Linked DNA regions of Homo sapiens: all the other regions are linked to region 2. Evidence: fine-mapped expression QTL. A gene starts in region 2. Each other region holds a variant in brackets. All regions are shown on one strand. Distances are between the middles of the regions.

Evidence for each region. PIP is the estimated chance that this variant, and not a neighbour inherited with it, causes the effect.
Region 1: its variant is the best candidate, but not a certain one, in a credible set for the expression of LPCAT1 in lung (TOPMed, PIP 0.86).
Region 3: its variant is the best candidate, but not a certain one, in a credible set for the expression of LPCAT1 in lymphoblastoid cells (GENCORD, PIP 0.89).

Annotation. Positions count from the first base shown.
Region 1 is chr5:1,541,665-1,549,091 of GRCh38, reverse strand. LOC124901161 (a long non-coding RNA gene) reads left to right here and starts at 693. Exons shown (of 4, transcript XR_007059099.1): 1 at 693-783; 2 at 2,127-2,333; 3 at 4,876-4,999; 4 at 6,795-6,986. It overlaps LOC107986397 (a long non-coding RNA gene), which reads right to left and starts at 682. Exons shown (of 2, transcript XR_007059102.1): 1 at 591-682. The variant C/T (reference allele first, on the strand shown) is at 3,158.
Region 2 is chr5:1,521,248-1,531,097 of GRCh38, reverse strand. It overlaps LPCAT1 (lysophosphatidylcholine acyltransferase 1), which reads left to right and starts at 7,138. Exons shown (of 14, transcript NM_024830.5): 1 at 7,138-7,388. The coding sequence starts at 7,254. RefSeq lists a cis regulatory region at 5,746-5,981, silencers at 6,751-7,150, 7,171-7,480, 7,751-7,950 and an enhancer at 9,111-9,615.
Region 3 is chr5:1,486,825-1,491,824 of GRCh38, reverse strand. LPCAT1 (lysophosphatidylcholine acyltransferase 1) reads left to right here. Exons shown (of 14, transcript NM_024830.5): 4 at 1,967-2,079; 5 at 3,374-3,434. It overlaps LOC124901162 (a long non-coding RNA gene), which reads right to left and starts at 2,294. Exons shown (of 2, transcript XR_007059103.1): 1 at 1-2,294. The variant A/G (reference allele first, on the strand shown) is at 2,851.

The sequences.
Region 1 (7,427 bases), 19 kb before region 2:
CAACCGTGGCTGCGGAAGACTCCAGGGCAGGATGGTCAGCAGCCTCCCTGCACGCTCAGCTGCTCCTGCTTTAGAAGAACCAGCCCCTCATCAGGATCCCGCCCGTTGGGAAGCCTGCACGGATTCTTCTGTATGCCCATGACACGGGCAGGGTCCGTGCTATAGAGCCCCTCCGCAGTTCTCCAGGGAGACACCTGTAGCCTGCAGTGAGGAGGGCTCTTGAGTGTCATCGCCTGAGGGCACTTTCTGAGAAACAGCGACAATGTAGAAAAACAGGCAACATTGTGCAACGTTTATCAGCCCCTCCGATCACACCTTTATCAACCCCTCCGATCGCGCTGTTTATCTGCCCCTCCGATTGCACCGTTTGGCCATGTGCATCGCTTTCCCACCGTTCTTCTTAAAAAAGGAAAAGAGAACATTTCCGTAGATCTTCTTGCCTGTTACAGATTGATTTGTTGTTGGCTGGTTTTATACATACACGCCTGGGTCCCTGGGGTCTCCGTTAGAGGATCCTGTGCCCCCAACCACCCCAGCTTATTTCCTAGGGTTACAGGTCAGTAAGGTAGTTGGGCCGTTTACCTACTCACTTTTTTCATGAATCTCTTTTGACAGCTACCAAAGAAGAGACAACATCCAGCAGCAGCCACTCCCGCAGGACTCCAGGGAACAAGGATGGAATGAGAATTGAGAAGCAGAGCTGAGCTGTGACTCAAGCACCGGGCTGGCTGCCACACAGCATCCCTGTGACACTCAGATGCCAGCTAACGTGTTCTAATAAAAGTAAGCATCGCTGGCCGGGTGCGGTGGCTCATGCCTGTAATCCCAGCACTTTGGGAGGCTGAGGTGGGTGGGTCACCTGAGGTCAGGAGTTCGAGACCAGCCTGACCAACATGGAGAAACCCCATCTCTACTAAAAATACAAAATTAGATGAGTGTTGTGGCATGCGCCTGTAATCCCAGCTACTAGGGAGGCTGAGGCAGGAGAATCGCTTGAACCCGGGAGGTGGAGGTTGCGGTGAGCTGAGATCGCCCCATTGCACTCCAGCCTGGGCAACAAGAGCGAAAGTCCATCTCAAAAAAAAAAAAAAAAAAGTAAGCATCACCTTGAAAGACATGATACCAACTGCTGAAACATTCTCTGAGTTCATGGTTAATAAGAAAAAGACAGCAGAACACCAGCGCACTTGGTTTCTGGAGAGCACCACTGTCAGGAGGCCGTGTTGACAAGGATGCTGGAGGAGTTCAGCCGCAAGCACCAAGCAGACTCCTGGATGAGAAGAAGCCACAGCTTCAAACCTGATGGGTGGTGAAGAGTACATTCCCTTTGCTGGCACAGTGAGGGAGAAAGACCAGAATTTTGTGTTTAGGTTAGAGGAGACCCACACTTAGGGAGCTAACGATGGCAGTGACTGTTGACTAAGAGCGTTCTACCACGATGCTCTTCCAATAGCCCTGAAGACAGGTCTTCTTATTCACCCCTTTCTATAGAGGAGACGCCAAGGCTTAGAAATGGAAATCCCTTTCCAAAGTTATCACAGTGGTAAAAATAGTACGGGGGTTTGAACCCAGGCCTTTCTAGCTGCAGAGTCCTGGTGCCTGCCCCACACCCTACGGTGTCACTGTCTCCCCAGAGACCCTGAAGGGCAAGGGTAGCCGCAGAGCAGAGTGGACAGCCTCCGGTTCTAGGGCCCGATGTGTGCACATTGATACATTAAAGTCCTGTCAGTGCGCAGATGTGCGAGGGATGTATGTCCGGAGAAACACATGTGCGCTCTGAGCAGTAACAAACCCAGACTGTCAAAATGAAGAACTGAGGACACATCGTTGCTGGGTCCATCTAATTCTGAATCAACTGTGAATATAGAAGAAATAATTTGCTCAAAGAGAAGGTGTTGACTTGTCCAAGACGCAACATGCTGTCTCTTCCTCTAGAAATCAGAAATATTCAAACCCAGAGTTCTACTGAAATACCCTAAATTGGCAGTGCTTTTTTGTGGTAATTTAATCAGTAGCTGAAGCTGAAATTCCCAGCTTTTCACAAAACGCAGTTTGCAATCTAAGATCCAACACTGTAAAAAGTGTGGCTGGTTCTTCACCCCCATAAAATAATCAATGTTTTCCAGCTAACCAGTCACATCGGTCAAACCCTACCTTGATCCGGTGATGGGCCCCTGCCCACCCCAAAATTTCCCGCGTGTTCATGAAAGACGACTAACTCCAGAACGGAACATGACGCACGTGCCGAGACATCAGCATTGAGTAAGCACCCGCTGTGGGCCAGGCCCGGTCTCAGGACAGCTGCGCGCCCTCCAGACTCCACGGTCCTACAGGTAAGTTCCACCTCGCCCCTGCTTTGCAGAGGATGGAAGGTGAGGCAGAAAAGCCGAGTCACTTCCCAAGATCACAGGGCAGAGCCCAGAGCCCTGTCACTCCCTGTGTCACTGCCTTCCTGGGTCACGACGAGTAACTTCCTGAACACAAGGGCCTGACTTGCTGCATTTGTCCCAGCTTAGGGATCATGTTGGCTGCAAATGGGTGTCTAAGACAACCCTTTAAATGTGAACATGGAGAAAAGGAGAATTGCTAAACACATTGCTGGAAAACATCGCCCATATAAACGTCTGTCTAAAAGAGCAACTTAGCCAGAGCAAAATCGTCTGCTAAATCAAAGGCGACTGGCACAACTAAATGGTGTAGAAGCAAATATTTCATTTTCAGCTTAAAGAATATCACTGCAAAAAATATGTTCATTCTGGGTTATCAATGCGTTTTCTAAATGAAGATGACTCTGAAAACATACTGATAAAGTTAAATACATGCCGTTTCAATCCCAACTGACACAAACACTCCAAGGAGTCAAGGACTGCAAACCAATTATGTTTGCAAAATCCTGGCTCAAATGTCCTCCCTCAAACACAAATGTTAATGTCTTACTCAGTATACTAAGAAATATGTCCTCTCTGTTGAGTCTTTAAAATCAAGTGGCTTATGAAATAAACCTCCCATCCAATAAGAGCTCTTGGCCTCATCAACTCATATTGAAAATATGCACAAGGGTTCTGTTCTGACAATCATCTCACTGTCGAAGGGTCAAATCAGGTGATTCTCAGCGTCTGTTACCAGAGACCAGGTGCTTCCACTCAAGATGACTTCC[C/T]GGTTTGCTCAAGCAAGAACCACTTAATGAGCAAATGAGCAAACCCTCTGGGCTGCTCCAGCTTAGGTGAGAGTGCACATGTGGGGTGACATAGCTGTGTGCAGAGGAACAGGTGTGCGTGCAGGTGTGAGTGCAGGTGCAGGTGTGTGTATAGATGCAGGTGTGTGTAGGTATGTGTGCAGGTGTGTGCAGAGGTACAGGTGTGCGTGCAGGTGTGAGTGCAGGTGTGGGTGTGTGTACACAGGGGAAAGTGTATAGATGCAGGTGTGTGTGTAGGTATGTGTGCAGGTGTGTGCAGAGGTACAGATGTGCATGCAGGTGGTGTGCAGAGGTACAGGTGTGCATGCAGGTGTGAGTGCAGGTGCAGGTGTGTGTACACACGGGAAAGTGTGTATAGATGCAGGTGTGTGTAGGTATGTGTGCAGGTGTGTGCACAGGTACAGGTGTGTGTGCAGGTGTGAGTGCACAGGGGCAAGTATGTATATAGCTCTAGGTGTGTGTGCACAGGGACGTGTATGTATAGGTGCAGGTGTGTGCAGGTGTGTGCAGAAGTTTGTGTGCAGATGTGTGTGCAAGTGCAGTTGTGTGCTCACTGGGGCAAATTTGTATATAGGTGCAGGTGCATGTAGGTGCATGTGCAGGTGTGTGTGCCAATGCAGGTGTGTGTTCACAGGGCCAAGCATGTGTAGAGGTTCACATGTGTGTGCAGGTGTGTTTGGAGGTGTGTGTGCAGATGCAGGTATGTGCACACAGGGACAAGTGTGTGTATAGGTGCCCGTGTGTGCAGGTGTGTGTGCAGGTGCAGGTGTGTGTTCACAGGGCCAAGTGTGTGTAGAGGTGCAGGTGTGTTTGGAGGTGTGTGTGCAGGTGCAGGTATGTGCACACAGGGACAAGTGTGTGTATAGGTGCAGGTGTGTGCGCAGGTGCAGGTGTGTGTTCACAGGCCAAGTGTGTAGAGGTGCAGGTGTGTTTGGAGGTGTGTGTGCAGGTGTAGGTATGTGCACACAGGGACAAGTGTGTGTATAGGTGCCCGTGTGTGCAGGTGTGTGTGCAGGTGCAGGCCGCACGCAGGAACACTCATGGTTCCACTGGCAACTCATCCACAGTGGCTGCGCCCGCTTACTTCCAGGCATGAGTGGGGAATGCATCACCATCCAACTGAGTGAGAGGCCCTTCTGAGGAGCCAATGCCTGCTCACAGAGAAGGGGGGAGATAGAAGGGGACAGGGAAGGAGGGAAGGAGGGAGAGGGCACCTTCTCACGCATTCAAGCCTCTTCCACGTGGTCCGACTTGGTACACATCCGGCCTGGCCCTGGCCCTGGGGTCTTACAAGACAGGCCTCGGCCAGAGCTGATGATGGGTTTCCCTCCTCCCTCCCTGCTTTTCTCCTGGCCTCTTCCCCCATCCTTCTCAAATGTCCCCTCCTCGAAGATGTCCTGGGACTCCCAGGCAGGAAGGAGCTGCTTCTCCACAAGAGAAGAGGGGAGATAGAAGGGGACAGGCTTCTCCCTGAAGCCTCTGGGCCCACCTATAGCAATGTGAGTCCCAGGCTGCCGCCAGGGCCAGAGCCCTCTGCACCCTGGTTCCTGCCCTGGCATCTATTTAGGACAGTAAAAGGGCTACTTAGATACTAATGAGAGTGAGGATTTATTAAATGAAATCTTTCTACAATAATTTTTTTAATTCTCCAAATGAGTCTCTTTTCTTTCTTTTCTCAGACAATGAATATTATGCAACCAAAATGTCCTGGGAATTCAGAGCCAAAGGCAGCATTCTTAGGAAATGCCTCCCACTCTCCTGCCATGGCATAGAGCTCTGCTGGGCTCTGGACCTGCAGAGAAGGTGAATAAGGTTCTGGGGGTGTCGGATGCCAAGGGGTGACCTGAGGAGGAGATGGGCTTTGGAGTGTGAGGCAGCACCCACGGTCAGCAGACAGCTAGGCACGGGGGCTCAGTGAGGAGGAAGGGCTGAGGCGAGGGTGGGGAGATGGGGCTGGGAGGGCTGGAGTCTTTGGGCACCCCCGAGAGAGCTACAGCTCAGCAGCGTGCAGGAAGGGAGGGCAAAGGGAAGGGAGGGCAAAGGGCCAGGTCAAAATGTCCAGTAGAAAGTGGGATGAGGAACAAAGTTGAGGTTGAGAGGGAGCAGCAAATAAAAGTACTCAGAGGGATTCGAAAGGGTTTTCTAAATCTACTTCAATATGCAAAGATAGATGTCATGGGCCTTGGTTTTGCTTTTCCAGTCCAAGTGTCTCCAGGAGCCTGCAGGTCCATTAGAATCAGCTGTACCTCCAAGTAGCAGAAATGTCCAAAACAATAATCACCTAAATGAGATAGAACTTCATTCCCCCTCCCATTCACTCCCCCCTCCCATTCACTCCCCCCTCCCATTCATTCCCCCTCCCATTCATTCCCGCCTCCCATTCATTCCCCCATCCCATTCATTTCCCCCCATTCATTCCCTGCTCCCATTCATTCCCCCCTCCCATTCATTCTCCCCTCCCATTCATTCCCCTTCCCATTCATTCCCCCTCCCATTCATTCCCCCTCCCATTCATTCCCCCTCCCATTCATTTCCCCCCCCATTCATTCCCCCCCATTCATTCCCCCCATTCATTCCCCCTCCCATTCATTTCCCCCTCCAATTCATTCCCCCCCATTCATTCCCCCCTCCCATTCACTCCCCACTCCTATTCATTCCCCCACCATTCATTCCTCCCTCCCATTCATAAGGCCAGAGGTAGCCAGTCCAGAACTGAGAGGGCCCTTCCAAAGGTCCAGGACCCAGACTCCTTCTCCCCAGTTGCTGCTGGCCTAATTTCCCTTCCTGAAGTTGTTTTATAGGCCAAGATGGATGCTGGAGCTCTAGCCAACACAGCTACCTTCCAGCCAACAGGAAGTTACTCAAGGGCACTTCCCAGAAGCTCCACAATCTTGGGATCATATCCAATGTGCTGCCAGGAATTAGTCACACGACCACACCTAGGCTGGGAATACAGTCTTCACCCTGGGTAGCCACACATCCAGCTAAAACATGCAGGTTGTATCATTAGGAAGGAGGTGAGGCTGGATGCCAGGAGAGGCCGTCAGACTCTGTGGGGCCTGGCCACTGACTCCTCCCCACAGCAAAGTTCCTCCTTTCGAAACTTGCCCTCCTCTCAACCAAAGGAGGTCTCTGTCTTTGCAACTCTGAGAAAAAAAAAAAATATATATATATATATATTTGAGACAGTCTTGCTCTGCTGCCCAGGCTGGAGTGCAATGGTGAGCTCTCGGCTCACTGCAACCTCTGCCTCCCAGGTTCAAGCGATTCTCCTGCCTCATTCTCCTTGAGTAGCTGGGATTACAGGTGTGTGCCACAATGCCTGGCTGATTTTTCCATTTTTAGTAGAGACGGGGGTTTCACCATGTTGGTCAGGCTGGTCTCGAACTCCTGACCTCGTGATCTGCCCGCCTCGGCCTCCCAAAGTTCTGGGATTACAGGCGTGAGCCACTGCGCCCAGCTGAGAAAAATTTTTTTATGCTGAATTCCTTACAAATGACATAAGCGATCATACAATTAGCCATGCTTATGTTTTAGAAAATATAAAATTATACATGATTTTAAAATAGGAGATACACCTTCCTCTTTCAATCAACAGATGCTGGGGCTTGTGGGAGGCCAGGAAAGGAAGAGGCCCTCGTCACAATGCTCCTGAGACGGTGAGGCAGGGGTTTCCCTTACACTCCCTGTTCCCAAGTATGTGAAGATAATTCCACGCAGCATTTTTCAAAGCCAACTGGAACGAGTTACTGTAAGCAGTCTTTCCATAAAAGATCACTCTTTGAGAATACTTGTTTTCATATTTGTGCTATTTTTGACATTTTAGGAAGCAAAATTACATGCAAACATTTGTTCTGCAAACCCAAAGTGTGAAGAAAGATGCATTCAAATACTAAAAAAAGCTGCGTGCCTCTAGATTTCAAAAATCTTTTTAGTTTTCACAAAGACCCACTGACGAGATCATTATTTCAGCTCATGCTTCCCACAGAGTATCATGTATTTAAAGTCAAAGAAAATGGGACAGACACAGCCGCTGAGGGAGATGCTGTGTTCATTACACAAGTTTTGTTTACATCACTTGGGACCCTGTGAGATGCATCTCCATGGAAGCGGTTTCAGCCTGCCAGCTCTGCTGCCAGAATTACTACCGTGGGCTTTGAAGGTTTATCACAATATAGTAAATGAAGTCAGAATTTCTAATAGGATATAAAAACAATGTTAAGTATCTAAA
Region 2 (9,850 bases):
ATAAAGACAGAAATCAACAAAAATAGAAAACAGAAAAATAATAGGAAAAAATCAATGAATTCAAAAGGCAGCTATTTCTAAAGATCAATAACAAAATACACCTCTAGCCAAAGTGATCAAGAAAAAGGAAGAAGACACAAATTACCAATATTATAAACGTGAACAAGGGCTATCAGTCTAGATCCTATAGATATTAAAAGGATAAAAGGGATTATGATAAACAATTTTATGCCAATAAATCAATAACTTAGATAAAACGGACAAATTCCTGGAAATATCTAAATTACTAAAAAAATTTAGGTTTTTAGATGGAAGAAATAGAAAAGATGAATAACACCTATCTAATGAAGCACTCAAATTCATAATCTTTAAATCTTTCTGAAAAAGAAAATTCTCATTCCAGATAGCTTCCCTGATGAACTCTAACAAACATTTAAGGAAGATATAATACCAACCCTACTCACTCTTTACTTAGAAATAGAGAATTTGGAATACTTCCTAACTCATGTTTTAAAGACAGTATTATCCTCATTAGAAATCAGGCAAAGACATTATAAGAAAGGGAAACTACGGCCAATATTTCTTATGAACATAGACACAAACATCTTTAACATAAATTTATCAATTTAAATTCGGTAATAAATCAATCGTGTAGTATGGTTAAGTGAGGCCTATCCAGAAAAACAAGGTTGGTTTAAAATCAGAATATGAACCAATTCAATTCACCATATTCACAGGATTAAGAAGAAAATTTTAAGATAATCTCAATAGACGCGAGCAAGCTTTTTGGCCAAAATGATAAAAACTACTCAGTAAACTAGCAATAGAAGGGAACACCCTCATCCTTTTTCAGGGCATCTGTGAAAACCCACAGCTCATGTCAAGACTGGGCACTGGGTACTAACAATCCCCAAGATTGTTAACAAGACAAGATGCCCAGTCTCAGCACTCTGTCCAACATTCTGTAGAGGATGTCACAGTCAGTGGAACAAGAGGAAATGCAAACAACGAAAGGCATACGTGTTGCTGGTGAAGGAAGAAATAAAGCTCCTTATTTACAGGTATTATGATTGTGAAATGGGGAAAATCCTAAAGAATCTACAAAAAAAGTCACTAGAACTAATAAATGAATTTAGCAAGGTTAATGCCTACAAAGTAAATACATAAAATCAGTTGTAGTTCTATATACGAGCAACACACTTCTGGAAATTGAAATTAAGAAGCAGTATCATTTATAACAGCATCAAAACATGAAATAGGAACAGAATTCGAAAACCTATGTAAGACCTATGCAGTGAAAATTATAAAACATTGCTGAGGGAAATTAAAGAAAACCTAAATAAATGATCTGTATACCATGCTCATGGATGGATAACTCAATATTGCTAAGATGGCAATTTTCCCAAATTGATCAATAGATTCAACACAATCTCATTAAAAATCCCACCAACCTTTTGTTTGTTTGTTCCTGGATACTTCAGTTTCTTGACAAAATGATTCTAAAATTTTGGCTGGGCATGGTGGCTCACACCTGTCATCCCAGCACTTTGGGAGGCCAAGGCGGGCAGATTACCTGAGGTCAGGAGTTCGAGACCAGCCTGGCCAACATGGTGAAACCCCGTCTCTACTAAAAAATATAAAAATTAGCTGGGCGTGCTGGTGCATGCCTGTAGTCCCAGCTACTCCGAAGGCTGAGACAGGAGAATCGCTTGAACTCAGGAGGCGGAGTCTGCAGTGAGCCGAGATCGGGCCACTGCACTCCAGTGCAGTGCAGTCTAATTTCAAGACTAATATAAAGCTTTAGTAATCAGTATAGTGTGATGTTGGCAGTTGCAGATGTACAGATCCATGGAACAAAATACAGAGTCCAGGAATAGACTCAACTATACATATATGGCCACTTAATTTTTTTACAAAGTTGTCAAGGTAGTTCAATGGAGAAAGAATATTCTCTTCAACAAATGGTGCCGAAACAGTTGAATATTCAGACGAAAACATTTGAAACTAAAAAACCTCTGCCTCCACTTTACTTTATGCCGTGTACAAATGTCAACTTGAAATGGAATACAGACCTAAATGGTAAAGCCAAAACTGTAAAACTTCTGAAGTAAGAAAATCTGAATGACCTTGATGCAGGTAAATATTTATAAAAGAGGATACCAAAACCATGATCCCTAAAAGAAAACGCTGATAAATTGGACTTCATCAAAATTTAAAATATCTGCTCTTTGAAAGACACTATCACTGCTTAACAAACCATCTCAGTCTGTAGTGACTGAAAACCACCACAATTTTCTGTTTGTCATGATTGTGGGTTGAATAGGAAGTCCATCCATTGTACATGATGGAGTCCCTCACTCTGGGGCTGTGCACTCCTCATCTGGAACATCCACAGGTCCTCTTGTACCCTGGGGTCTGTCTTCATACAACCTCTACACAAGCAGTAGTGGTTCTCCATATAATCCATACTGTCAAGAGTAATTTTTTTTTTTGAAAGAGAGTCTCGCTCTGTTCTTGCCCAGGCTGGAGTACAGTGGCGTGATCTTGGCTCACTGCAACCTCTGTCTCCCAGGTTCAAGCAATCCTCCTGCCTCAGCCTCCCGGGTAGCTGGGACTACAGGCGTGTGCCACCACACCTGGCTAATTGTCATATTTTTAGTAGAGATGGGGTTTTGCCATGTTGGCCAGGCTGGTCTCGAACTCCTGACCTCAGATGATCCGCCCACCTCGGCGTCCCAAAGTGCTGAGATTACAGGCATGAGCCACCGCGCCCGGCCCAAGAGTAATTTTTGAAACGATTATTACATCACTGCAGAAGTATGAAGCATCAAGGAATTAACAAAAATACAGAATCTTTATGTAGAAAAATTTAAAATGCTATCAAAGGGCATGAAAGAACATCTAAATAAATGGTAGAATAACCATGTTGGTGAAAAATCGTTCTCAAAATTATAAAGTGTCCATGCCACATCATCCATTTAAAAAATTTTTTTTTTGTATTTTCTAGTGCTTTGAAGCCTTGGAGCCTTGGAGCCTTGCTGGCCCTTCGAGGGCCCCTCCCAGGACCAGCCAGCTCTTACTGAAGTAACATTCTTAGGGAACAGGGAGAATGAACAGTAAGAATGAAGTAACATTCTTACTGAAGTACCCTGTACAATTAATGTGATTCAAAAGGAAGCTTCCAGCGGGAATTTTTAGCAATGGGGACAACTGCTTCCAAAATTTGGATGGAAAAATAAAATTCCCTGAATTCCTACTACAATTCTTGGGAAGAAGCGCCAACAGGAAGGAACCCCCTCTACAGTTACTAAGGCAGACGGTTGAAAGGTGTGAGACAGGAGTAAAGGAGTACGCGGACCGGCGGGTGAGACGGGAGTAAAGGAGTACACGGACCAATGGGTGAGATGGGGCAGCCAGAAGGAGCTTCAGGAACCCTTCTTTCTGTTCATGCTGGAAGTGGACCCACAAGTGGGAGTCTGTGATTGATACGTGGTGTTGAGAATATCAGGTCTCCATGCAGAGAAAAAAATCTTCAAATAGAATAAAATGCAACCATGAAAGGCAGAACTGAAAAAAGATGTTAGTAGAAAATGAAGGAGAATATCTTTTTCTATCCTATAGATAACTCTAAAATTCAAAAATTAAACAAACAAAACAAAAATACTCAGCCTTACCAGAACAAGCAGGTACCTTGTGTTCTCAATGCACTTGGAGTATAGGAAACACTTCTCTGTGAGCTTACACTCTTAAAACAGAGACAAAACCAGAGCAAGAAGCCTCAGGGGTGTGGTTACCAGCCCCAGGGAGCTGTGGGGGGCTTCCAGGAGGTTCCTGAGAACCACAGTGGGGGCTCCCTTTGTAGCTAAAGGGCCCTTAGGGTGGTTTTCCCAAAACTAAGTCCTAATGAGAAACTCATGTTTCCCCTGCTAGACAGAGAAAACTGCTTATACCTCCCCACCCAAGACCAACTTCTCTTAGTCAAGCTTCCAGACCCTCCAGGTCTTAAGAACGTTCCATTACATAGCAGAACCAAAGCCTAAGTGTGAAGGCCCAGTGTGGGTGGAGGAATTTCCTTGCTGCTCCTCCACGCTTGCGCTGATTTCCCCATAAGCAGCCCCTCTCCCCCACCCCTCGCAGTCCCCAGGAGAAAACTGACTCCCACACACAAGAGTGCCCCAGCTCCCCACCCCCTGGGCACGTGCCCTGTGGACCATCCAACCCCTTCCAGCTGCAGCAGAGAAGGAGTCCCCGCTCCGGGCCCCAGGCCTTTCCTTCCTCTGAGCGCAGAATCCTTCCAGACTGAGATGGGCCCATGACACCCCCTCTCACAGGGGTTTTCAACGTCTCCTGTGAGGCTGGCCTGTTGCCTTCCACCCAGGAACATGTCCTGGGCCCCTTCCTTGAGCTGCTGCCCTGGATCCCAGCCTCCCGCCAAGCATCCATTTTCCTCCTCCTGCCCATCACGCTTCCTCCTTTCTCAGGTAGCTGGGAAAGAACCTCTGTAACTCCTGCCCACTCCACAGCACCCTGCAGGGTGGTGGTCTCCACCCTTGCTACTACCACTGGCTGGCCTTCCCAGTTCTCTCCTGGCCAGTCCTCCTGGATGGGGCAGTTCCGTGGACTCAGCCCCTCTGGGGACCTCCGCTCCTTGGCCGCTCTCTGGGGCCTTCTTGGGTTCTGCTTGGTGAGGACGAGTGTGCCCCAGTCCTGCCCCCTGCTCTGCACAGCCCTTGGCCCTGTCACACCCACCCTCCCAGCTGTGCCCCCTTGTGTACTGACCCCGGAGCTGGGCCTCTGCGCCTCCTCCACATGGTGCCTGTGACCCAAGGATCCACTGAGCTTCTACACCAAGGCCACGCTGCCCACAGTGGCTCCACCTAAGACCCCTCTGGGAGAGGGACTCCTCTTTCCACCGACCTTGGCTCAAGGACAACCTGCTGACCCTGCTTAGATTGCCGGGCAGTATGAGGTTCTTCCCCCAGCCTCCCCACCTCCTTCCCTGGGTTCCAACTCACTTTGCACTCTGCAGGTTAAAGCAGAAGGAATTTATTCTCTCCCAGTCTGGAGGCCAGAAGCCTGCGATCATGGCACCCTAGGCCTAGGCTCCCTCTGAGAGCACTAGAGAGGACCTGCTCCAGGCCTCTCCAGCTCCTGGGAACTGCTTGCCTGTAGCAGCAGAACCCTGGCCTTCCCATGGAGCTCTCTCTGTGTCTGTCTCTGAGACCGAATCTCCCTCTCTATAGGGACACAAGCCATTTCAGACTAGGGCCCACCCTAATGACTTCCTCTTAACCTGATCATCTGCAAAGACCCTGTTTCCAAATAAGGTCGCGGCCACAGGTGCTGTGGGTTAGGACTTTTGCATCTTCTGGGGACACAGCCATGACTCTCTGGCAGCTCTCCCCATTGAATCTGGCTCTGCACCATCTCCAGCAGGTTTCCCCTCCGCCACACACCGCTTCCTGGCCTGTGCTTCTGGGAGGACCCCACTTTCATGGCTCTCCAAGTCCAGTCCTGAGGCTGCTCTCATCCCAGGACTGGGACACCCTAGGGCCCCTCCTCTCCAGAGCACTCAGGCAGCAGGTGGGGCCGCCTGGATCGCTGGGGTGCAGGTGCTGCCCTGTGGCTGGCAGGCTTTGTGTCCTGGGCTTTCTTGATGATCAGTTCGGTGAGGAGCCTTGGGTGGCCTCGGGTGCTGGGCTCTGGTTTTGGGGATCAGAGCAAGTGGCCACTAAAAGCCCAGGAGGTGGGTGCAACGCTGGTGGCTGGGCCACAGAGCCACCAATGCCCACCAGCACACAGGGCTCACCCCATCCCCGTGGGTGTGGCACTTGGGACAGGTGCTGCTGCTAGGCATGGGCTGGGACTCTTATGGGGCAGGAATATGGGCTGGGACTCTTATGGGGCAGGAATAAGGCCATGCAGCGGGTCTGGCCTGCCGGGGCCTTCTCTGTGCATGATATGTGGATGGCACAGACCCCTGGCCCTCACCCCGGTCTCAGACACAGAAGGGTCTCTGCCAGCCCGCTGCACTATGAGGTCCACAAGGGCGCAGGCAGGGTCATTGGAGGGGTCGGGGCACTCCCTGGCGTCTGCTGAGGATGGGGCCCAGCTGGGGCCAACACAGCAGTGACATCCCCAGGAGCCAGGACCCTGGGGGGTTGGCCAGGTGGCCCAAACCGGCTCTGTCTGGGTGAGGTCCGTTGGCCATGAAGGAACCAACAGGGCCAGCCGGGGTGAGGAAGCCGTGAGCACTGTGACCGAAGGCCTGCGTGAGTTCTGAAATCCAAGCGTGTTCACCCGGAGGCAGGAGCCCATCCTACTCTCGCTCCGGCTAATTATGGGCCCCACCCTGGGGCTCCTCACACGGCTCCTGAGCACCACAAGGGCAATGCCCGAGCCAAAGCAGCTACGGGTGAGAAAGCGCTGGGATCTCATCGCAGCCCCTGCACAACCAGCACGGACAGTCAGGGCCCCTATGTGCGCCTCCTGCCTGGGCCATCCCTGCGGGGCCTGAGGCCTGAGAGGTCCTGAGATCGGAGGGGTCCTGAGGTCTGAGGGGGTCCTGAGGCTTGAGGGGTCCTGAGATCTGAGGGGATCCCGAGGTCTGGGGGGTCCTAAGGTCGAGTGGACCTCAGGCGGGAGTCGCCTGGGCTGAGGCGCGGCTGGAAGAAGCTCCCTCAGCCCGGGGCAGCTTCCAGGGTCGCCGGTGCGAGCTAGGAGCCCAACGAATAAGAAGAATGGCGTGGGGCCTTCGCCGGAACAGCCCGGGGCTCGGCACCCAGGGCCTGGCCCGCCTTGCGCGTAAGCTGGACGCGTGCCCGCCCCTTCCTCCCTCCCCGCGAGCAGGCGGGCCGAGCGGCGGAAGGGGACGACGTGGCAGCCTCGCGGGCCCGGGGGACCTCCCTTTCTCCTGGCGCAGACCCTGCCGGGGATCCCTGTGCTCCAGTGGCTGCAGGAGGCGCCCCCGGTCCCCAGCGGCCCCGGCCCCCCACAGACCCCAGAGAAACCACCAGGTAGCGGAACTCCGGCTGGTGCCGCCCCTGCCGGCCGGCGGGAGGCGAGGCTTCCAGGGACGCCCCGCCCCGGCCGGCGCTCCCGCTCCGCCCACGTCACCTCCCGCGCCTGCGCGCCCGGCCCGCTCCAGCCGCCGCGCATCCTCGGCCCGCGCCCCGAGACCCGCGCCCAGCTAGCCCCGGCCCCGCTCGGCGCCCCAGGCAGCTCGGCTGCGCTCGCCGCGGGACGGCGCGGCCATGAGGCTGCGGGGATGCGGACCCCGGGCCGCCCCTGCCTCCAGCGCAGGGGCCAGCGACGCTCGGCTGCTGGCGCCCCCGGGGCGGAACCCCTTCGTGCACGAGCTGCGCCTCAGCGCCCTGCAGAAGGCCCAGGTGGGTGCCCAGGGCGCGCGGCCCCGGGAGCCGGCGCGGACGCCAGGGATGCTGGGGCCAGGGAGGCGCGGCCGAGGAGGGGCCGGGGAGGGGGCCTGGGGCGCGGCGCGGCCCTGCGAGCCGCGGCGCCTTCCCTCCCCGCGGCCGCCCCTCAGTTCGCGTCCCCGCCGCCCGCACCCGATGCCTCGGTCTCGGCGCCGGCTTCCCGCCGCCCGCACGCGCATCCTGGTCCCTCAGCGCCTTCCTCGGGGTCCCCGCTTCCCATCCCCGCCCCGCGTTCTGCTCCTCCCCCCAGACCCCTGCACCCTGAACCGGGCCCACAACCCTTTCTCTGCCTCCCAGAGCCCCGACCTCGGCTCCCGCGGGAGGCTGGACCCGCATCGCCGGTCCCCGCGCTCGTCCCTGGTCCGGGCCCCGCCCGCCTTGGCAGGCCCTGCGCGCAGCCCGGGGACTCCGGAGCGGCTTTGCCTGGACGCGGCCCGCGGGCGGGAGGGCACCGCGGCTCTGGGTGAGCCTCGTGTGCGGGGCCTGGTGGTGCCCGGGACAGGGCGCGCGGGCGGTGCGGGTCCCCTGTAGGGTCCCCTGTAGGCGCACGGGTCTCCCTGCTCTGCGGCCGCACGTTGCCTTCTGGGGTGCATGCTTCGCTCCTGTTGTAAGGGATGCTTTCTCGGGGCTGGTCTGACCCGAATCAACTTTATGCAACCTGGGCTGCCACGTGGGAGGGAACGGTTTGCTGAGATCCTGCGATGGGACAGTGGTGAGGGGAGACCCGGGGGCGTCGTGGGGAGGGGGCCGCTCGCTGCAGGAAGCTGCACCGGGGATGTGCTGGCTCAGCCTGGCTTTTCCGGCTACCTGGCTGCCAGCTGGGCTTACAGTTACCTGAGATCCACTCTCAAGAGGACCTTACTTTTGACTCTAGAATAATTCCTAGAAGCAAGCACTGTTTCGGGGCCTATGGGGCTGTCCGGTTTGTAGGGAGCACGCTTCCAATTGTGAGAATAGATTTCCGGGAAGATGGAGATTTGTTAATGCATAAAGTACTTTATCTGAAAGAACCCTGAAGTGAAAAGTTCTTGAGGCCAGTTTGAGCTTGTCATTTTCCCAGGACGCCTGCTTTTGCTCAAAGCCCCTTGATGCGGCTGGTCCTCAGGGTATGGAAGGGGACGGGGAGCAGGAGAGCCCGATGGTGCCGCCCCTCCTGGTGACACACAGGGTGAGGTCGTCCCCAGCCTGGCTCCCAGGCCCTGGCCCCCGTCTCCCTGTGTGTCGGGAGCTGGACTCTGGGGCTGGGGCGGTGCCGGCCCCTCTGCCGCCGCTCTGCCTGGCCCTCTGTCTGCCACACGCTGTCAGCTGCCGTGTGCTGTGCCCCTCAAAGGAGGACTTGGGACACGGTCGCTCATTCTGTGCCCCTCAACCATTCCTCCTCTTCAATCCTCACCCCCACCCAGCCACCAGGCTCTCTCCCTGGTCACTCTCCCTGAGTCACTCCCAGCAGGCTTTCTTCCTCCTGCACTCTGCTGCTCGGAAGCCCTCAGCGGGGACGCCCCCGGATGAAATTCGAACCCCTGCTGTGGTTTCCAGGGCTTCCCCAGCCCTGCTCCTGCCCCAGCTATGGCTGCCTCAGGCATGCTCTCTCTTCCTGCCTTTCCTACTCCCTCCTGGCTCCCTGGGGGGAAACATCAAGCCCCTCCCTGGAGGTCCCCGGAGGCCACTTCGTCATCCCTGTCATAGTTGCAGCCCCCGGTTGAGGTGTGTTCTGTCCAAAAGTGTGCACCCACTGCCCTGGCGAGAAGCAGGGCAGAGACTCTCATGGGTAGGTACAGATGTCAGGGCACTGCCAGAGTGCCCAGAGGGGCCTGCTTTCCTCCCCGAGACCTCAGGGTGCAAGCTGCTCCCAGTGGCTCTTGGGCAGGGGGTCATCGAGAGGCTCCTGGTCCCGAGATTGAAGGCTTTGGGCAGCTGTTCTCCCTTGGGCCGAAGCCAGGCAGAGATCCTGGCTTGAGGTGTTGGGGCCTCTCAGAGAGGGGGCTTGCTTTGTTGCCACTTCAGAGGTTCCATCTGAGGAATTAGGTGTGTTTGTACATCCAGTCGTTTCTGCTGGATGTCTGCAATGTGTGGCTCAAGGGTTTAGTTTGTAAACGTTCTCAAAGTTCTCTGCAGAAACATTTTGCTTTTCACCAAGCATTGCTTTGCAAAGCTTTTACTTTGATGTGATATATTCTTGTAAAGTTTCCACAGAGTGAAATAGCCTGTCTTTCAAGCCAAGAAAGCCTTCTTCCCCAAAGAAAGAAATGGGTCCAGTAGTGGCTGACACACTCAAGAACCCGCAGAAACCCAGCTAAGTTCCCAGTTGAGATAAACCAGTGAGTACCTGCATTTACCTGTGAGCATTTGCCGCCTGGGAGGGGCTGCTGTGTGTCTTCGGATTAGCGCCATGCGGGGACACCTCCTCCTCCAGCCAG
Region 3 (5,000 bases), 37 kb after region 2:
GATTTTTTCCTTTTCACATTCTTAGTTTCCTTTCAGTGACCTTCATATCCGCACCATCCATTTACAAACCTTGTCAAGGAAAGTTTGAGCCTCAAATGCCCAAAAGACGGCAGAACGCTGTCACCTTCTTGCTGGCAAAATGCGCCAGTCCCAGTGTGGCTGTGCACACGGCGTGGTGACACCCTTCCCTCCTCAGGGCTCCCGGGGAGGAGCTGCATCTCCTTGCTGTCCTCACTGCCCAGTTCTCAGCGTGAAAGGCACACCGGGCAACCCACATGAAGACGCACGGCCCAAGACTTCACTCAGAGTCCTCCCCCTGCACCCCCCACATTTACCCCCGGACCCATCTGAGTGTGAAACGCCCCCACGTCACTGTTCTGTTCTTTGCCGTTATAGACAACTTCTGAAATCTCTACTCTGTTCACAAAACAAACCAGCTGACAGGATTGCGAAGGTGGCAGGGTGGCATCTCCAGACCCCGTGTGCCCCGGGACGACCATGGGACGCTTTGGCCAAAACAGTGGGCACCGAAAGACCACGCAATCAGGGCCATTTCTTTGACGCGTGCGCCATCCTGCGAGACGACTCCGCCATTCTTCCCTTCCGATATCGTCCTTTTTAGCAGAGTTGGGAATAACCAATGAGCAAGGATGAAATAGTACTGGAATCGTGAAAAAGCAAAATGATTCAAGACATAGGAAAGACCACAGAGACCCAACAGACAACCACAGGATAGAAGGAATTTTCTTTTTTTGGCTTCAATTTTCTCGTTCTTGGAGGAGAGAACCTCCAAGAAAGAATAAAAGTCATGAAATGCTACTCCTTACAAGTAATAAAAACGCTAAGAAAAGAAACTGGAAACTGAACTGGGGTGGGGAGGTGGGGCTGACCTGCAGCAGCCTAGGAGCCCGTGGTGGGGTCAGAGACACCTTCAGTTGGCCTGGGGGGCGCCGAGTGTGGATCCTGCTCACCGTCCTCAAAAAGGAAGCTCCACTCAGGGATAGTTTCATTTTAAAGTCTTCAGAGTTTTCTCTTCTAAGAAGTATGTTTCCACGTTCAATCCTCTTGCATAAAGACAGGTGCCGTGGCCACGTTGCCTTGGCTGAGCACCAGCCTTCATGGCGGGGTGTCCCTTGTACCCCAACCCCGCAACTTCCAGGAGGCTGTGGGGTGCCATGGTTAAACTGGGGCTGTGCTACAAAGCACCACAAAGCTGGTGGCTTAGAACAACAGGAGCATATTCTCCCGCCGTCTAAAAGCAGAAGTGCCAGAACAAAGTGCTGGCCGCATTGGGCTCTTCTGAAAGCTCCCTCGGCCCTCCCGGCTCGTGGTGGGGGCTGTGGCCACATCCTCCTATGGCCTCCTTCATCATTGGCCTTCTCTCCCCCTCTTCGTCTCCTCTTCCCATAGGGACCCTCATCTGGGATTTTAGCTTGAGCATCTGCTTTGTCTCCTCTTCCCATAGGGACCCTCATCCGGGACCTTGAGCATCTGCTACCACCTGTTTCGAAATGAGGTCCCATTCCCGGTACCAGGAGTGAGGACTTCAGCTTGTCTTTTAGGGGATGCAGTTCAACCCACAGGGGGAAGGCGGGGTCCAATCTAGGGACCTGGCACCTTCAACCCTGTCCTCTGTGAAGACTGGGTCTAAAGACTTTCTGCTTCCTGGCGGTTGTCTTTCATTGACCTCCGTTCTGTGCTCCGTGTCCTCAGTGGGTGCCATGGACTTGCTGTTTGTTACTTGTGGCACTGAGGCTACAGGGCTTCCTGCTGTCACAGACATGGGAAGCCCGGGTGCTGTTCCCGTTCCCTCAGTCAGGGACTCACAGCCCACCCATGGCACAGCCCCTGGGGCATCTGGAGTCTCCCGCCCCACTGGGCGCCATGCAGCAGCCCCCTCGTTCCTCAGCCCTGCCTGGCGGGAGCCGTGCATTCCACGTGATCCGTCTCCCCTCCTCTCTTCCAGCTCTGATCCAGTATATACGGCCTGTGTTCGTGTCCCGGTCAGACCAGGATTCTCGCAGGAAAACAGTAGAAGAAATCAAGAGACGGGCGCAGTCCAACGGAAAGTGGCCACAGGTAATGCACGTAGCCCTGATTGTGTTTCAGTGGTTTTATTCCGAAAGATGCGAACTTCGCGAGTGGGGAGAAAGAAACTGGGGCCCTTCCTCCGGGGCTGGATTCTGATTCTCTTCTCCTAGTGAGTGCGTGAACTCAGGAGGGTGCTGTCAGGTGCATTTGGTTTCGGTGCCCGAAATTTAAAGTTAAAGTAAAGAAAAACAATTCTCAAATGCATCTCAGCTTCCTGAATCATCTTTTCTGAACTAAGTTCTGACTCAGATAGAGCATTGCTCACCCGCCCTCCTGGTGCAGTGTGATTTTGGAGTTGATGTGTCAGCCTGCTGTGTGTTGGGTGGTTCTAAAAGTCCTGGAGTAAACTTCCTGGTCTGTATGCTGGTTCCCAGGCATTCAGAAGCCCTGAACCCAGCTGTAGGGGCAGCCTGGCTGACATTAGCTTGGACGCTGTTTTTCTTCTTTCCAGCTGAGCCATCATTAGAAGCTGGAAATTTTACAGAACTGTCTGGGATCTGATTGCTCACGAAGCTTTGCAGGGTCTGGCTGGGGGCAGCCCCTTAGAGGGCTGTGACTTCCAGGGTGCCCCAGCTCTGCCCCCACAAGCACAGGCAGTCTCCTCCCCCACCCATTTGGCCTGCCTGGCCCTGGGCTTGCCAGGGTGAGCCCACGCCGGCCCCCCTGAGGTCTGTCTTCCTCACGGGGCCCAGAACTGAAAGCAGCCTGCGGGGCTGGGAGTTTGAGGGCAGTTTTTGCTACTGCAGGCCAGTGTGAGTC[A/G]GAGGAATTGAAACCCCGGTGTGGAGGGTGCTGCCTGACTGGGGCTCGGCTCTCCTGCTCATCCAGCCCGTTGCTGGGGTCCCAGCCCTCCTTCGGCTCCATCAGCCAGGCACTGCCATTTGTGGGTCTTTGCTCTCCTCCCCACCTTCTTCCTGATGAGAATGAGTGCTGCCCCCAGGAGGTGCTTATGTTGTGCCAACCGTGGGTTATATTTAGTTGCACCTGGTTCTCACAGTGTCTGAGAGGTGGGCACCGCGACTACCCTGCTTTCCAGGAGCTGTAGTTGAAGAAGACAGATGCTGTTTATGTGTTGATACTGCTGCCACACTTTAATAAAACCAGCAGAGCGGAAATCAGTGTGTGCTTCCATAATGCATTTTAATAATTTACGTACTGAATATGATCCCAGTGTCCAAATTATGTCAGCAGAAAAGAAAATATATTGTGAAGATTGGCTTCTGTAAGTTCTGAATTATAATTATGTACAGTTTAATGCTGATCCTTTTCTTTCTCCCACTTCCAGATAATGATTTTTCCAGAAGGAACTTGTACAAACAGGACCTGCCTAATTACCTTCAAACCTGGTATGTAGTTTTCTTAAATGTTTATTTTTCTCCTAGAGAAAAGGAAAATATTAAAGAGATGTTTTTTAATAATGTGCTGTGCACATAAGAACAGTTTCTGTTTTTATCCTGTGTGCTGGGGTTCTTAGAGGTATTCCTAAGAAAAGTCACAAAATAAATTTGAGAATGTGAGTCAAGGATTATCATGTTTGCAGGAAGATGGAGAAGTTACGGTTTCAGGGCGTTTCCAGTGAGGTGGAGATAGATGTTTGCCTCTGTTTTGAGGTCCAGGCTGGAGGGTCCTGGGTGCAGAAGGGGTCTCACTGCCTTTGAATGGCTCAGGGTACCCTTCTTGGCCTGCAGCTCACGCCCCACACCCGCCTGGGAATCCCAGGTGCAAATCCCTGCGAGCCATCCTCAGATGCCCAGGTCCCCAGGTCCCCAGTTAGACAGTGTTCTTTCTCCCTGGGGAGGGGGGACTCAAATGCGTGTGAACTTGGGTCTCTCCCGCGGCGGTTACCTGGGTCTAGTATTGTGTCTGCACCCCTGACGTGGGAAGTGTGGCAGTGAGCAGGCAGCAGAGTCCACTGTTCTTTTTGCGCTGAGTCTGTTTGGAATTCTGCACACCCTTGGGCGTGTCAGAGGGTCCACCTGGATCCTGTCGTCTCCCTTGGGCTACTTTAGAAAGTAGTGGCTTTCATCAACTGTGTCCATACTGGGGCATGCAGACCTGTTCTCTGTGGTTGGATCAGAGTCACGTGGAAAAGCCAGTTCCTCGCTCACACTGGCACCGGCTGCCGTGCCTCTGGGGCCGCACAACCTGAGTGTCTGGACATTTATGGGAGCTGGGTCGAGAAAGTGTGCAGTCACTCACCTACGTGTGCCGCCGGGGTTTCCGAGCCTGTGGCCATCCTCCTCCAGCTCAGATGCGCGTGCTTTCACCCTCCACCCTCCTTGGTGCAGCAGGCAGATGGCAGGTTTTGCTTCCAGAGGCTTCAAGGTGCAGCTCACTGGAAGGTACTGGGTCTTCCCGTTCCATTGTCTTCACCACGCGTGGTTCTGAGTCATTCTGATCAGAACCAGAGATGCAGAGGGTGGAGGCGGCACGCGGTGACCACGAATCCGTGTGCCCCCACCACACTGGGTCCGTGCCTGGGCGTGGCCTGTGGGCAACCTTGGTGAAGGCCAAAAGTGGGCCGTGTTTCCAAGGCCCCAGGCAGAAGACAGCTGGCAAGTACGTCAGGTCTTGTTCCTTGACAAGGTGTGGGGCTGGGGTCACTGCTGGGCCCTGTCTTCAAGGGCAGGTGTTCCTCGGGAGTGGAGCCTCGTGCCTGCAGGGAGGCCCCTGGGGAGGGCCATCGCCTTGCCCTTTGGAGCTGGCGGCCCTTGTGTAGACGTGAGGAGGGCGTGTGAGCACCTCTCAACGCATATCACGAAACTGAGGGGACTCATGGCGGTGCCCAGTAGGAGCTCACTGTGTGCAGTCCAGGAAGGGCGCTCGCTGTGCCCCAGGTGGGTTCCACGGGGTCTGGGGAGATGACACGGTGGCTTGATCCTTTCCCCGTCTCCATTTCCAGTGGGTCCAGC